Linked DNA regions of Homo sapiens. The protein of the gene in region 2 interacts with the protein of the main gene of each other region in a biochemical or structural test. Each region holds a gene or a part of one and is shown on either strand. Other genes may lie near its edges.

Region 1 (7,000 bases), on a different chromosome or scaffold from region 2:
AGGCAGGGGAGGCAGTTGGCCCAAGCCCGAGTAGCCCCGGGCCTGCCTCAGGCGCTCCCAGAGTGCCCAGCGCTGCTGCTACAGGGACAGTCTCTGGGCCTCAGGCATCTTAACTGCTATGGCCCAAAAGGGCTGCCTGCACCTGGCAGAGTCCAGAATGGAGACTAAAACATCCCACACTTCCCACATGACAACAGGCGCGGCCAGCCAGCTTGGCACCCATCCTCAGCCCCAGGGCCTGGCCAGCACTAGGAGGAGCTCACCGGGGTGATCTCAAGCTTCTATCCTATACCTGCCCCATGAGAATATTACAGGTGGGGAAACTGAGGCACAGAAGGCTTTGGTGACGTGCTCAAAGTTAGCAGCAAGTGCACGTCTGGGGAAGCCTGTGCCTGTCACCACCATCCTAAGGTAGTCACAACCTTAGCAAACCAAAGACAGGGGCCCTGTCCTTCCCTGCCCTCCTTGGTGCAGCTCCGCAGGGAGATCAGACACCAGCCACCCGCAGCCCACACTCCAGCCGCCCAGGCCCCCCTGCCTCCCCTGCCTGTGCCCGGAGCTCACCGTGATCTGGACAGCCAGCAGGCCCTCCCCGGCGTCCTTTGCATCGATGGTGAACTCCACGGGCAGGCTGGCAGGCACGCCAGTGGTGTTGAGCCCGGGGCCACTGGCCTTCACCTTGCTGGCATCATGAGTAGGCAGCACCTTGACCTTGAAGGGGCTGTGAGGGATTGGTGTTGTGAGCAGTCAGACAGGTTCTCAGCATCCAGCCTGGGCCACTCCCCACAGGCAGCAGGCCCTGCCTCTTACCTCCGGGGTACCTCTTCATCTCCATACAGTACTGAGATGCTGTAGGGCCCTTCTCGGCTGGGCACATAATTGACGGTCTGGGTGCCATCAGCGTTGTCTACCACGTCCACTGGCTCCACCAGGCCTGGCCCCAGCCCCAGGGACAGAGCATCAGCTAGTCTCCTGGGCCTCCATTCCTACCCCACCACACTGGACGGCCAGGACCCAGCCCCAGGCCTAGACCTCGCTTTATCCTCATCCACCCGACCCTGGGAATGGCCTTGACCCCCTCTGGCACGAAAGACACCCATCTGGGTGCCAGCTGGGACCCTTGCCTGCCTGCCTTCCTGCCACATCTGCTCAGTGACCAGTCCCATCTGCTCTACCTCCTCCAAGTCCCCCACCTGGCTGCACTGTCACCTGAGGCTCTTCCAAAAACACCTACACACTTGCACCACCTCTGCACTCTGGTCCTCACTTTGGGCCTCCAGTTTCCTTTCCCGGCCCTCAAACAGGACACTGCCCTCCTGACCCCTGGCTCCAGGCATGCAAACACTCACCTTTGGGCCCTTGCACTTTGACCTGCAATGGGGCCACACCAGCCTTGCTTGTGTCCACCTGGAAGGACTGAGGGAGGTTGGCACGAACCATGCCTGGGCTCAGGCCGGGCCCAGAGCACTTGACCTTGGACGCATCTGTCACATCATGCACAGGGACCTTGAAAGGACTGCCTGAGGGTTGGGGCAAAGGGATGGCGGCTGTATGAGACAGGGTGGGGACGAGCAGACAGTCCCAGCCCTGCCCTGGCCGCCACCTCCTCACCTGGCACTTGATGGCCACCATAGGTGACGTTGAGGCTGTAGGTGCCAGCCTCATAAGGGATGTACTCGACCGAGCAGCTGCCGTCCTTGTTATCCATGCAGGACATCTTGGCCTCGGAGGGGCCCTCTACAGCCAGGCCCAGGCCGCCCGTGCCAGCTCCCCTGGTCCAAACAGACAGCCGGTCATTCCTGGGGTTCCCAGGCCCACCAGCCACACGGGCTCCTGGGGGCTCCCTTACCTGGTCTCCACAGTGAACTTGTTGGGCTTGTTGGTGGTGCCACTTTGGATGCCTGGCCCGTGGACACGCACCCGGGAGGGGTCGCAGCCCTCGGTCACGGGCACCTGGAAGGGGCTGCTGGGCACGGGACTGCCGTCATAGGTCACGTCCACGGAGTGCAGTCCTGGAGGAGTGCAGGCCAGGTCAGGAGGAGCCCGGGCCACCCCACCCACCCCGTCTGCCAGCCTGTGGGAGTCCCCAGCACGCACCCTCCTCGTAAGGCGTGTACTCCACTTTGTACATGCCATCGCCACGGTCCTGAACGTAGGTCTCCGTCAGGTTGCCTGAGGGGTTGGCCACACGGGCCTTGACGTGCGGCCCTCCGGTCTGTGTCAGAGCCCGGGCGTCCACACTGAACTCAGTGGTGGCCTCACGGAAGACACCTGCAAAGGCACAGAGAGGAGGCTTGGGGCTCGGGGGTTCTGGTCCCTGTCCCCCGTCACATACCCCACGGCAGGGCAACTCACCCTGGCCCTCAATACCAGGCCCATAGCACTGGACACCGGAAGTGTCCACCGCAGGTTCCACCTGCAGCTTGCTGGGGAAGTTGGGCACGGGCTGGCCGCCGTACTTGATGGTGACGGTGTAGGCCCCGGGGCAGAGGGGAATGTAGGTAATGGTGTGCGTGCCATCACCGTGGTCCTGGATGTACACCTCGGCCGGAAGCCCCGCCTCCGAGCAGATCTCAATGGTCAGCTCCGCGCTGCCCGCGCTCGAGCAGTCCACTTGGAATTGGCCCACCTCCCCAGCGGTGGCCCGCTCCAGCCCGGGGCCTGAGCACTTGACTTTGGATGCGTCAAAGCAGGGAACCACGTGGGCCTTGAATGGGGAGCCAGGGATGTGGGTGTCAGCGAAGAGGATGTTGATGTTGTAGTCCCCGGGCTCGGTGGGCACGTAGGACACGGAACATGTGCCATCCCCATTGTCCAAGCACTCGAGCTGCGCCTCACAGGGGCCCTCCACCGTCAGGCCCAGGCCACCTGTGCCGGCGCCCTTGGTGTCGATGGTGAAGCGGGCGGGGGAGCCCGCACTGCCTCCCTGCAGCCCCGGCCCAAACGCCTTCACCTGAGGGAAGAAGGGGTCAGGAGCCAAGGCCACACTATGCCCCGATCCCAGACCTCCTGCTTGACTTTCCACCTGCCTCCCCTTGCCCTGGCTTCCTGCCCTCACCAAACAGGGACACGGGCGGGCCCAGGCTGCCTGCCAGATGGGCCATCCATCAGTCATAAGGACAAAAAGGAGGGCAGGGCGCGGTCACTCACGCCTGTAATCTCAGCCCTTTGGGAGGCCAAGGTGGGTGGATCACCTGAGGTCAGGAGTTTGAGAACAGCCTGGCCAACATGGTGAAATCTCGTCTCTACTAAAATTACCAAAATTAGCTGGGCATGGTGGCGGGCACCTGTAATCCCAGCTACTTGGGAGGCTGAGGCAGGAGTATTGCTTGAAGCCAGGAGGCGGAGGGTGCCGTGAGCCAATATCGCGCCACTGCACTCCAGCCTGGGCGACAGAGTGAGACTCTTTCTCAAAAAAAAAAAAAAAAAAAAAAAAAAAAAAAAAGAAAGAAAAAAAAAAAAAAGAAATTCTTCAACCCTGATGACTTTTTGTGGGTTTCTATTTCCCTCCTCCCCTTTACTCTCACTTAAACAGGGTCAAGGTTGACAGTCTGTCTCAGGAAAAAAAAAAAAAAAAAAGGATTTAGGGCAGGTCTGGAGAAGATGGGGTACCTTTGGGGCCCTCAGAGAGCACAGTGGGTTCTACCCTTAGGGCCTCCCATACCCCAATTACCTTGCTAGGCTTGGTGGGGGCCACAGCTTCCAGAGGAAAGGGGCTGCCAGGCACGGGCACGCCGTCATAGGTCACCTCCACCTCATAGGGCCCTTCCTCACGGGGCAGGAAGCGCACCACACTGTTGTCAGCCCCCAGGCCTGGCTCCACCTTGCAGGGCACCGCTGCACCCGAGGGGCCCACAATCTTGGATGCCACTTTGCCTTGACCACCAGCACCCTTTGATTTGACTGTGAACTCCTGGTCTTTGCCAACGTCCACCTCTGTGGAAACGATGAAAGGAAGGAGAGAGACATGACACCCAGCTCAGCCAATCCCTGGATGTGACAAAGGCCTTTGCGACAAGGGCCCCAACTACTTACTCTCTCCCAGGCCAGACACCTTGATCTTGCTGAGGTCCAGGCTTGGAGATACTGCCACTGAGAAAGGGCTCTTAGGGATGGGATCCCCTCCATAAGTGACATTGACGCCTACTGGACCCTGGGAAGGGTGCAGAAGGGAAGGGGGTATTTAGAGACACCAGAATTGCTCCCCAACCCCCTCCTGGACCTCCATGCCTGTCCTCTCCCAGGTAAGGAATGAGAGTGGGCAGAAAGTCCCTCGGAGCTGTCCCCTAGGCTGCTGCATGAGGAGGCTGGGGACTCGGTGACTGTAGTGGAGGGTGTGGCTACCTGCTGGACAGGCGTGTACTTGACTGTGTAGGTGTTGTCATGGTGGTCGATGATGTCCACATCTCGCACTGCATCCCCCTTGGTGAGTCCTGAGAACTGGACGTCCAGCTTGCCTTTGCCAGCAGCTTTGGCATTTACTGTGAAGTGGGTGGGCTTGCCAAGCTCGACACCTGAGGAACACACAGGGACCATGTAGGGGCACCCTGCCCCAAGCCCTCCTACCCTTGATGCCCCGCAACCTGCCATGGGGTACCTGTCCTCACCAGTGCGACTGAGGCCAGGGCCCTCGGCCTTCACCTTACTGGCGTCATGAGAGGGCTCCACCTTGACTCGGATGGGGCTGGTGGGCGTGGCCTGCAGGCAGTGGGAGGAGAAGGCCTTAGAGGAGGGCAGACGTCATCCGCAATGACATCTTAGCGGCCAGGAGCGCAGCACCCACCTGGTCAGCAAAGAGGACCATAATGGTGTAGCTGCCAGCCCCCCGGGGCGTGTACTTGACCGTGAAGGTGTCATTGTCATTGCGGATGATGTCGAAGTCGATGTCAGCTTCGGCGGGGCCTACCACTCCAGGGGCACACTTGATGCCGATGCTGACGTCCCCTGCGGCGGGGAGAGGAGCGGAGGCTGAGACCTCGCAGGGACACCCCAGCCACCTGCCCTCCCACCCACAGCCAGGCCTTACCCTGGCCAGCCTCGGCGCAGTCCACAGTGAAGTAGGTGGGCTCGTGGGCCTTGAGCCCTGTCTTGGCTACTCCGGGGCCGTATACTTTGACCTTGTTGGGGTGGCTGCCAGCTCCCACATTCACCTGCAGGGCACAGGGGCAAGGGCAAGGGCATGAGCAGCCTGGAGGAGACTCAGAAGCTCCCTCAGCTACACTGGCAGGCACACAAAATGGTCCAGCTGCCTTGGGAAGAGTCTGGCAGTTCCTCAGTTGACCACAGAGGGACTGTGTGATGCTCCGGTTCACTCCGAGGCAACTACCCAAGAGAAATGAAAGCAAATGTCCACGCAAACACCTGGACTCACTGTTAACAGCACTGTTCATGATCACCAAAGGCAAGCTCATCCTCAATATCTGTTAGCAAGTGAACGGAAAAATGGAATGTGGTCTGGCCACACAATGGAGTATTATGCGGCCATAAAAATAAATGAAGCGGCCGGACGTGGTGGCTCATGCCTGTAATCCCAGCACTTTGGAAGGCCAAGGTGGGCGGACCACCTGGGGTCAGGCGGTTGAGACCAGTCTGACCAACATGGAGAAACCCCGTCTCTACTAAAAATACAAAATTAGCTGGGAATGGTGGCGTATGCCTGCAATCCCAGCTACTCAGGAGGCTGAGGCAGGAGAGAATTGCTTGAATCTGGCAGGCAGAGGTTGCAGTGAGCTGAGATCACGTCATTGCACTCCAGCCTGGCAATAAGAGCAAAACTCCGGCTCAAAAAAAAAAAACCAGGATGGGCGCGGTGGCTCATGCCTGTCATCCCAGCACTTTGGGAGGCCGAGGTGGGCAGATCACAAGGTCAGGAGATCGACACCATCCTGGCTAACACAGTGAAACCTTGTCTCTACTAAAAATACAAAAAATTAGCCGGGGGGGTGGCGGGCGCCTGTAGTCCCAGCTACCCGGGAGGCTGAGGCAAGACAATGGTGTGAACCTGGGAGAAAGAGCCTGCAGTGAGCCGAGATCGCGCCATTGCACTCCAGCCTGGGCGACAGTGTGAGACTCCATCTCAAATAAATAAATAAATAAACAAAATAATTATAAAGGAACAAAGTGCCAAGACATGCCAAACATGAACGAAAACACGGAAAACTTCGTGGTGAGCGAAAGAAGCCAGACACAAAAGGCCACATGGCACACAGTTCCATCTATAGAACATGTCCAGGATAGGCAAAGCCACAGCAGAAAGCAGGTTAGTGGTCACCAGGAGCTGTGGGACAGGGGAGTCAGGATGGTGTGCCACAACCACTTGAAATGGACGAATCGTGTGCTACGTGAATGCTATCGAGATGGACTAAAGGCCGGTGGAGGTTGGCTCACCCTGAAGGGGCTGTTGGGGATGCTGACGCCTCCCCAGGACACCATGGCTGTGTGCTTCACCGGCTTCCTGGGCACGTAGGAGCAGCTGTAAGTGCCATTGCCGTTGTCCTTGACCAACGCCTCCACAGGGCAGCCTTCATTGTCCTGTCAGGCAGATAGGAGCAGGTGGCCTGCTGGTCAGTGCCCAGGCCTGGGTGCCCACACCTGCCCTGCCCCCAACACCCGTGGGTGCTCTACCTGGACTTGGACCCGAAGTGGGGCCTTGCCACCGTGCTTGGCATCCACTGTGAACTCTGCTGGCTTGTTGACGGCCACACCTGTCTTCTCCAATCCAGGCCCACGTGCCTTCACCTAGCGGGAGACCACCCAGCTGTCAGGGGGCCAGGTCCAGGCTGCCAGAGCTACAACCCAGGCAGGGTGGCCAGGGACACAGAGTGCCATCCCCACCAGACCCCAAGCAGGAGCAGCAGGGCGAGACTTAGGCCATCACAGCCTGCTCTTTACCCTGTCTGGGTGGAAGTCCTGGGGCGCGTCACGGATGTCAGCCATGAAGGGGCTGAGGCGGATGTCTTCGCTGTTGCACAGCACGTGAACGGCATACTCGCCAGCCTCC
Region 2 (7,000 bases):
GAGCACAATTCCAAAGGTGCTATCTCATCCCACGTGACAGGGGTCCTGGCCTCTCTTGCTGCTCCCTGGCAGCTGCTGTTAAAGATTTAGAGGATAGCAAGGGTGTGGCAAGCATGGCCAGGGGCAGGCTGTTGCAAGGCTGCCATCCTACTTTCCAAAGCCTCCATCGTCCACTCTGCAGGTTATCACCGAAAATCTGTGTGATTCCACCTCAATCTTGCATGCCTTTCGAAGGCTTCCAGCTCTTTGGTTCAGTGGACAGCTTCCGTCTTACAAACAGGCTGAACCTTATGAGAATTCAGACTCCAGCAGAGTTGAGGCTGGCCCTAATAAACAATACCCATGAGGTATGAGAGAAAGGCCTAACAATGAATCCTGCAAATTCTGCAATTAAATATTGGAAAAGTAATATGTATACCAACCAACTAACAAAATTTACCTACTAACAACATTCTGGCACTAAATGACTCTACAGTGAAGCCCCTGCCATGAAGAGCTGCTCTCCTATGGGCAACCCATCAGGATGCACTGATCTGAATTGGCACGTGAGTAAAAGGTACAGCCTGAAACCATCAAATTAGCACCCGTTCTCCAGGCTCCTGGACCCAAGACATATTAGGGTAAGTGCAACAAAATTTAGATGGAGGTGAAGTGACTCTTAAAAAGCGTGAAATACGGACGCAGTGGCTCACGCCTGTAATCCCAGCACTTTGGGAGCCCAAGATGGGTGGATCACGAGGTCAGGAGTTCAAGACCAGCCTGGCCAAGATGGTGAAACCCCGTCTCTACTAGAAATACAAAAAAATTAGCTGGGCATGGTGGCGGGCGCCTGTAATCCCAGCTACTTGGGAGGCTAAGGCAGAGAACTGCTTGAACCCGGGAGGCAGAGGTTGCAGTGAGCCAAGATTGCGCCATTGCACTCCAGCCTGGGTGACAGAGCGAGACTCCATCTCAAAACAAACAAACAAACAAACAAACAAAAAAACTGAAATACATCCTGCCCCCATGCGATCTGGGTTTGTTTTGTTTTGTTTTGCTTTTCGAGCTAGTAATGTTCCCTTGCATGCCAGCTTTCATCACTCTGGTACTGAAAAGGGCAGTGAACGCTGGGAAGAATTTCTCATAATCATGAACTTAAATTTTTTAAAAAGCCACCTACAAATGAGAAATCTATTTGTTTACTATTAGACTAATGAGGGATTTATTCCAGTTATTTAGATGTCAAAATATTGGGCAATTTAAACTTTAGAGATTTTATTGTGTGAAGCTAGTTAGGTGGAAATATATATAACACTCCAGTCAAAGCATTGTTTTTCAATATTTGTGTGGTTCAGCTTCAGAATAAAAAACAGAGGAATTGTAGCTCTCGGTCCTTATCATTTAAAACTTAAACTAATAAAGTTATCTAAAAAACAACAGAATTTTAATGCTATTCCTGCAGGCCCTGGCATATCTGTCATGCAGAACAAGGATGAACTTAAAAAGTAAACACAAATAAGAAAATGCAAAACTTTCAGAATGCAAATGCCAAAGAGTGCCCTCTCACAGGTATCAGTGGCATCCTTCAATGGCAGCAGCAAAAAAGAATCATTGTGAACTTGAAAAAGTGGATGGGTCAATGCAAGAGGAAGCAAAGCAAAATGAATAAACAATGGAGATCAATTTATACACACACTGTTTTGGCCAACATCTTAACGACTTCTCATATGCACATCATTTTCAAATCACAATCTAAACATTTTGCCTGAAAGCATTCATGTCATTTATACATGTCACTTCATATATACTAGGAAACACGAGTTCTTTGAAAATAGATTTCAAGTATTAGTCTCCGATATATTCATTCATTCTTGCACTGAAACCACCTATTCCACAGAAATCCAAAGAGGGGTATTTTATGACTTTCCAAGAGATATACCTACATACATACATACACACACACACACACACACACAAACACACACACACACACAATGAAAAAACAGGCACCAACAAACCCCATTTAAAAATATTTTAGGATTATACGTGTAAATTTGAACTGTGTTTTTCTCAAGTTCATGCATAGTTTTATGGTTATGAGTCTTAAAAGTAGGTGGGGCTAACACTTCATAAATCCATTTATTAATTGTCAATACCGTGAAATAGGTAGCTGTCAATTATATACAAGAATGCCTAAGAACAGAGGGCAAATGACCTCCTATAGTTACTCATGTAGGAACGAAGCCCTCCAGATGAAACTAAACTTCTTCTTTCGCACCAGGAACTGTGAGGCGCTGAAGATCATCCTGCATGGGCCACTTGTCATCTTCGATCTGGACAGCAGCACAAATCATGGGAGTGGGAAATTTTGAAGCAGCAAAAATGGTAACTGTCTATAGCTAAAGATTATTGTAAGTCAGATTTGACTTATACACCAGATGGATTTCCAAATTAACACGTATTACAGAATCCCAGGAAAGAATCTTTATTTCCCCCTATCTATCTTTACCATTACCCTAGATCACCCCCGGGCAATTATAAGAAGCTAGGTCCTACATAGCAAAGTATGAACACAAGTATTACTATCTTTCAAATCGATATAAAATCTTTCCAAATTAACTCAATTTTGTTCAAGTTTACTTAGAGAATAATTACTTATATGAGCTTTGGCTTTTGTTGGTATCATTGGTTCTATCTGCATTTCCTCGATTATGAGTGAGGCTGAATATGTATTTTTTGGCCATTCATACTTCTTTTAATTGTTTGCCTATTTTCTTTCTAGATATGTCTTGTCTTAATTGATTTGAGGGAGCCCTTTACTAATTACATATATATAATCCTTTGATTTGTAATAGTTTTTCTCCCAGTTTATTATTGGCCTTTTTTTAATGTCACATTTTAAAATAACATATACAGTTAAACGGTGTGTGTGTGTTGTGTGCATGTGTGTAAAGGTCTGTGAATTTTAACACATGTAACTGCCACAACCAGAATACAAATCAGTTCCCCATCCTTCACCTGCCTCCTGCCCCCTTGTAGCCATACTCCCCCACCCCCTAACTCCTGGCAATCAATGCCCATCTGTTTTCTGTCACTACGGTTCTGTCTTTTTGCCAGTGTCATATAAAGGAACTCATACAGCATGCAGCATTTTGAGACTGTCTTCTCTCACTCAACATTAATGGAATGGCTGTACTATAGTTTGTGATCTATTCACACCTACACAGTTTCAATGCTAACAACAACAGACAGACAGCAAGGGGCCCCTTGGCCTTCCCTGCAGTAAGCCAGTAATGGAGCAGCACCAGCTCCCCCTCCTTTCAGGAAAGGGGTCCACAGAGCGGCCAGGACAAATCTGCTGCCACTCACTGAAATCCCTCCCCAAGAAAAACCTCCTGCAATTCATCCCTGTCCATAGCAGGGCTACAGACTGTGAGAAAACAAGCCTGATCAACTCACGTGGACACCACAAAGTCAAAGTACCCTAGACCTAGAATCCAGTCTTTGTGTTGAGTAAGTTTTCATGAAAGCTTTCTCTGTCAGTGTAACTGCTAAAATGCACTCATTGATGACAAAGCCCAAATAGGAAGATGCCTCCAAAACACCAGCTCTAGACTACTCTACAATCCTCCCCCATCAGACAAGAGTAGACATGTGGCTAATGAAAAGAGCCAGTAATCTAAAACTCAAGTATGTTCATCACCAAAACGAGGTTTTACATTTCCACAGCCCCTCTGCCATCAAATGGCACAGGGAGAAATCTCAGAGGTCAATGCCCTCTGCCCCCCGCTCGTAGCCTCACTCTGGTTTGCTCTCTCTTTCCCCACATACAACCTTTCCCGGGGGGCAGGTGATTAGTAATTTGGGTTTCAAGGGGCTTCCTTATGTGGAGAGGGGACAGAAAAGAGGAAATTAAGGTAACAACACAACTATTCAGTAAGCAAATTAAGTGTTTCCATGAGTGAATGAGAAGCGAAAATGAGTGTTTATGCACTTGTTAACCATTAAACATGAGAGCAAGATTCCCCAAAAGCAAGACTGTCTGCACAGAAGGCTCAGTAACATCAAAAAGCTGGGAGTCCTCACTGGACAATCTAGCCAGGTATCTCTCTTTGAGATTTACGAACTAGCAGGGAGCTGGGCACCTTGGCAGTGAGAGCGAAGTCCTGTTCTGCGGGCACAGGGGGAGGAGACCAGGGGTCCAGCAGGAAGCCAGCAGCACATGCAGGGCCCCGCAAGCCTCTGACCACTCCTCTATGCTCCCTTCCCCTCAGTTCAGAGGCACAGCAATAGGAATTCCCAGAACAGCTCCCGCTGAGTAACAGCAGCCAGAATTCCCAAGTGCAAGGGTCACTGGGAAGTCTCCCTGTTCATTCCCTCTCCCAGTGGCCCACTGAACAGCGCGTCAGCAGAACTGGAATAGGACGAAGAGAACCCTGTGGATGCACATCGAACCCGCTTACCCCTTGCTCCAGCTGGGGACCCAGCCTGGTCCCTGCAGCCCATTAATTAAAATGAGGCTGAGAAGATTCAAAAGACAGCATCTCCATCCACCAGGCCAACCACACCATCACCCTTGTCAGTTTGGCCAAGTCTACGCAGCTGAGTACTTGGAAGAAATGGGAGGATGAGGTCAGAGCACGCACTTTCCACCAGAATACACTGGGATTCTCCCGCAAATCCAAGTCTTCACTGTCCAGGGAGTCGCTACTATTTCCTGCCAGTGGCGCTGTTAAAATTTTGTCAAGACAATGCACTTAAGGAAATAAAAGCCAATTCATTATAGAATTGAGGAGGAATGGGGGCAGGGTGTTATCACTGCTTTTTGTAGTAAAACACAGCTCATCCCTATCAATATCAGTGAGTTTACTAGGCAGTAAAGTGTGGCTATTGATTAAGAATTAGACTTTTCTCTGGAATTCTGCCAAGGTTATGAGATAAAATTTTATTTTCTCGATAGTCAAGTAAATAAACAAAGTAAATATTGAATACAGCTGACTTAGATTATGACAGCTTCAAACACATCTTTCACCTGCAGTTCAGAACAAATCTCAACTTTATCGTAACATTTAAAAGGTCAAAAAAGGCCACTGAAATTACATATTTTTAGGGTACATTTAGGAAACATATGTAAACCACATGCTTCATTTTGAACACCACCACCGGCTTCATTTAAATCTGGTTAATCATTTAAATGGTGGAAATGGCTTCTTTAAATTTTCATTTGAATCTTAAATAGTTAAATTGCAAAGGGAAAAAATACAATATCCCACATCAATATGTCGGTTTACAAGGTCTCAATGAAAAGCTTCTTTCAGTGATGACTTTACTGCACTTCTTTGATTCCTCGAAAGTCACTTACAGGAATTTTAGAAATCTCCTTGCTTTCCTCTAAAACTGACTGTGCCACCTAAAAAGGAGAAACCAACATTCACTATCAAATTACATTTCCTTCAGTTTCTATTTTTGAAATATTGAGGGTAACAAGGACCCACTTTGTAATACAATCATTATTGGTGCTCACAAGGACCAAAGCTGCCAGGCTTCTCAATACCAACAGAAGTAGCACAGCCCGCCCCAGGCCAACTACCTAAGTGGCATTCAAGGTATAAATATGAAGAAAAGCTTCTCTCAATACTCCACAAGGAAACCGTCATATCAAAATATATAAAAGTATGTGTGCTTCTCCCTAATAGACTTGATTTTCTTCACCTGTTCCCTGGAAAGACAGGGGCTGCAGGAGGAGTCGAGTAAGATTTAATAATGAAAGAAACCAAGCACGACAGGACGTGATGCTTCAGAATAACTACAAACCTTTATTCTCCAGATATTCATTTAACGCCAACCTAAAGCGTGCCAGGCAGGTTAAAAATACTGCATTTATGTAAGCACCTCCACCACACACACACGCTCTCACAAGGTTAAATAGGGAGCTCTGAAAGAATGATTTATTGCCACGAGAACAGAGCCCCAAAATAGATTGGCAATAAAAATGATTGGTCCCAGTGGGGTTGAGAACTAATGTAAGCAACGTCCTGGCTATGAGAAGCGACCAGGAAAGAGCACCAGGGACCAGGGCCCTGACTCTAACTCTACCCAAGTTCCACTCTGGGGGGCAAGTCATGAAACCTCCCTAAGGCTGATTCCTCATCTGTAAAATAAAATTAAAACAAGGCTAGCTCATTTTTGTGGTGTCTTTTTTTTTCTTTTTGCTCTTGCATTGAAATTGGTTTTACTGTGCTGAGCTCTGTGCAAAGGAGAAAAGTGAAGTTTGAAATTCACTAACACCTGCAGAAAATCTCTTACTGCTCTTTAACACACAAGCACCAGGACTTGACTCACATTATTACAACTCAATCCACTTGAACACTAATTGGCCTGCCTGCTTCATGCCAGGTCTATAAATAGGTGATCAAAATGATCATCAAAATGAACAGGGAGTGCCAAGGTCCTGAGCAGAGAACGGAATGACAGCAAAGGAAATGAGACCTTGGGTGAGGTGAACCCTGGGTGGACGCTCAGCAGAGGAGAAGGGCACCAGGGCTCTGGAGCCCTGAACTACCCAAAGAAAAGCGGAGAACAATGATTAGGCACTGAGGACTCAGAGAAAGCCAGAGTCCACAGGGAAAGGGGAACAGCCCCAAGGTCATCTCCCGGACCCCTCTCCAGGGCAGCAGTCCTGTCCCCTGAGCCCAACTCCAAACCCTGCCAGGTGACAGCACCTTTATGTGAGCACTTCCAGTAATGGAGAAATCACAGGACTGTTCACTCTATTTCTGAACTTCCCTTAATTGTTTAAAAGTTCTATTAAAGTCTTCTCTTTCTTTCATCCAACCACTGGTATTAGTTTTCAATCTGTGGCTACAAAGACAAAGCCGAATGCGGGCAACAAGAACGAATTTAAAAAAAAGAAAGAAAATCAGGCAGCCATGCAAACAGAGTTTCAGGGCTGAGAAAGGAAAGGCAAGCAATGGAAAGCCTTTGTCTAAGTCAGGTTGGCACTTTTAGTACCAGGCTCAAA

Evidence for each region. The genes of interacting proteins can lie anywhere in the genome.
Region 1: the proteins of TRIO (region 2) and FLNA form a complex in vitro, tested with the Homo sapiens proteins (one study listed by BioGRID).

What each region holds. Positions count from the first base shown.
Region 1 is NC_000023.11:154,357,635-154,364,634, forward strand, and holds part of FLNA (filamin-A), read right to left. Parts: coding exon 6,892-7,000; intron 6,739-6,891; coding exon 6,625-6,738; intron 6,532-6,624; coding exon 6,388-6,531; intron 5,151-6,387; coding exon 5,027-5,150; intron 4,945-5,026; coding exon 4,784-4,944; intron 4,699-4,783; coding exon 4,608-4,698; intron 4,515-4,607; coding exon 4,345-4,514; intron 4,154-4,344; coding exon 4,036-4,153; intron 3,937-4,035; coding exon 3,674-3,936; intron 2,954-3,673; coding exon 2,356-2,953; intron 2,272-2,355; coding exon 2,098-2,271; intron 2,013-2,097; coding exon 1,850-2,012; intron 1,773-1,849; coding exon 1,612-1,772; intron 1,521-1,611; coding exon 1,350-1,520; intron 935-1,349; coding exon 811-934; intron 722-810; coding exon 565-721; intron 1-564. UniProt on the Homo sapiens protein: Promotes orthogonal branching of actin filaments and links actin filaments to membrane glycoproteins. Anchors various transmembrane proteins to the actin cytoskeleton and serves as a scaffold for a wide range of cytoplasmic signaling proteins.
Region 2 is NC_000005.10:14,146,342-14,153,341, reverse strand, and holds part of TRIO (triple functional domain protein), read right to left. Parts: intron 1-7,000. UniProt on the Homo sapiens protein: Guanine nucleotide exchange factor (GEF) for RHOA and RAC1 GTPases. Involved in coordinating actin remodeling, which is necessary for cell migration and growth. Plays a key role in the regulation of neurite outgrowth and lamellipodia formation.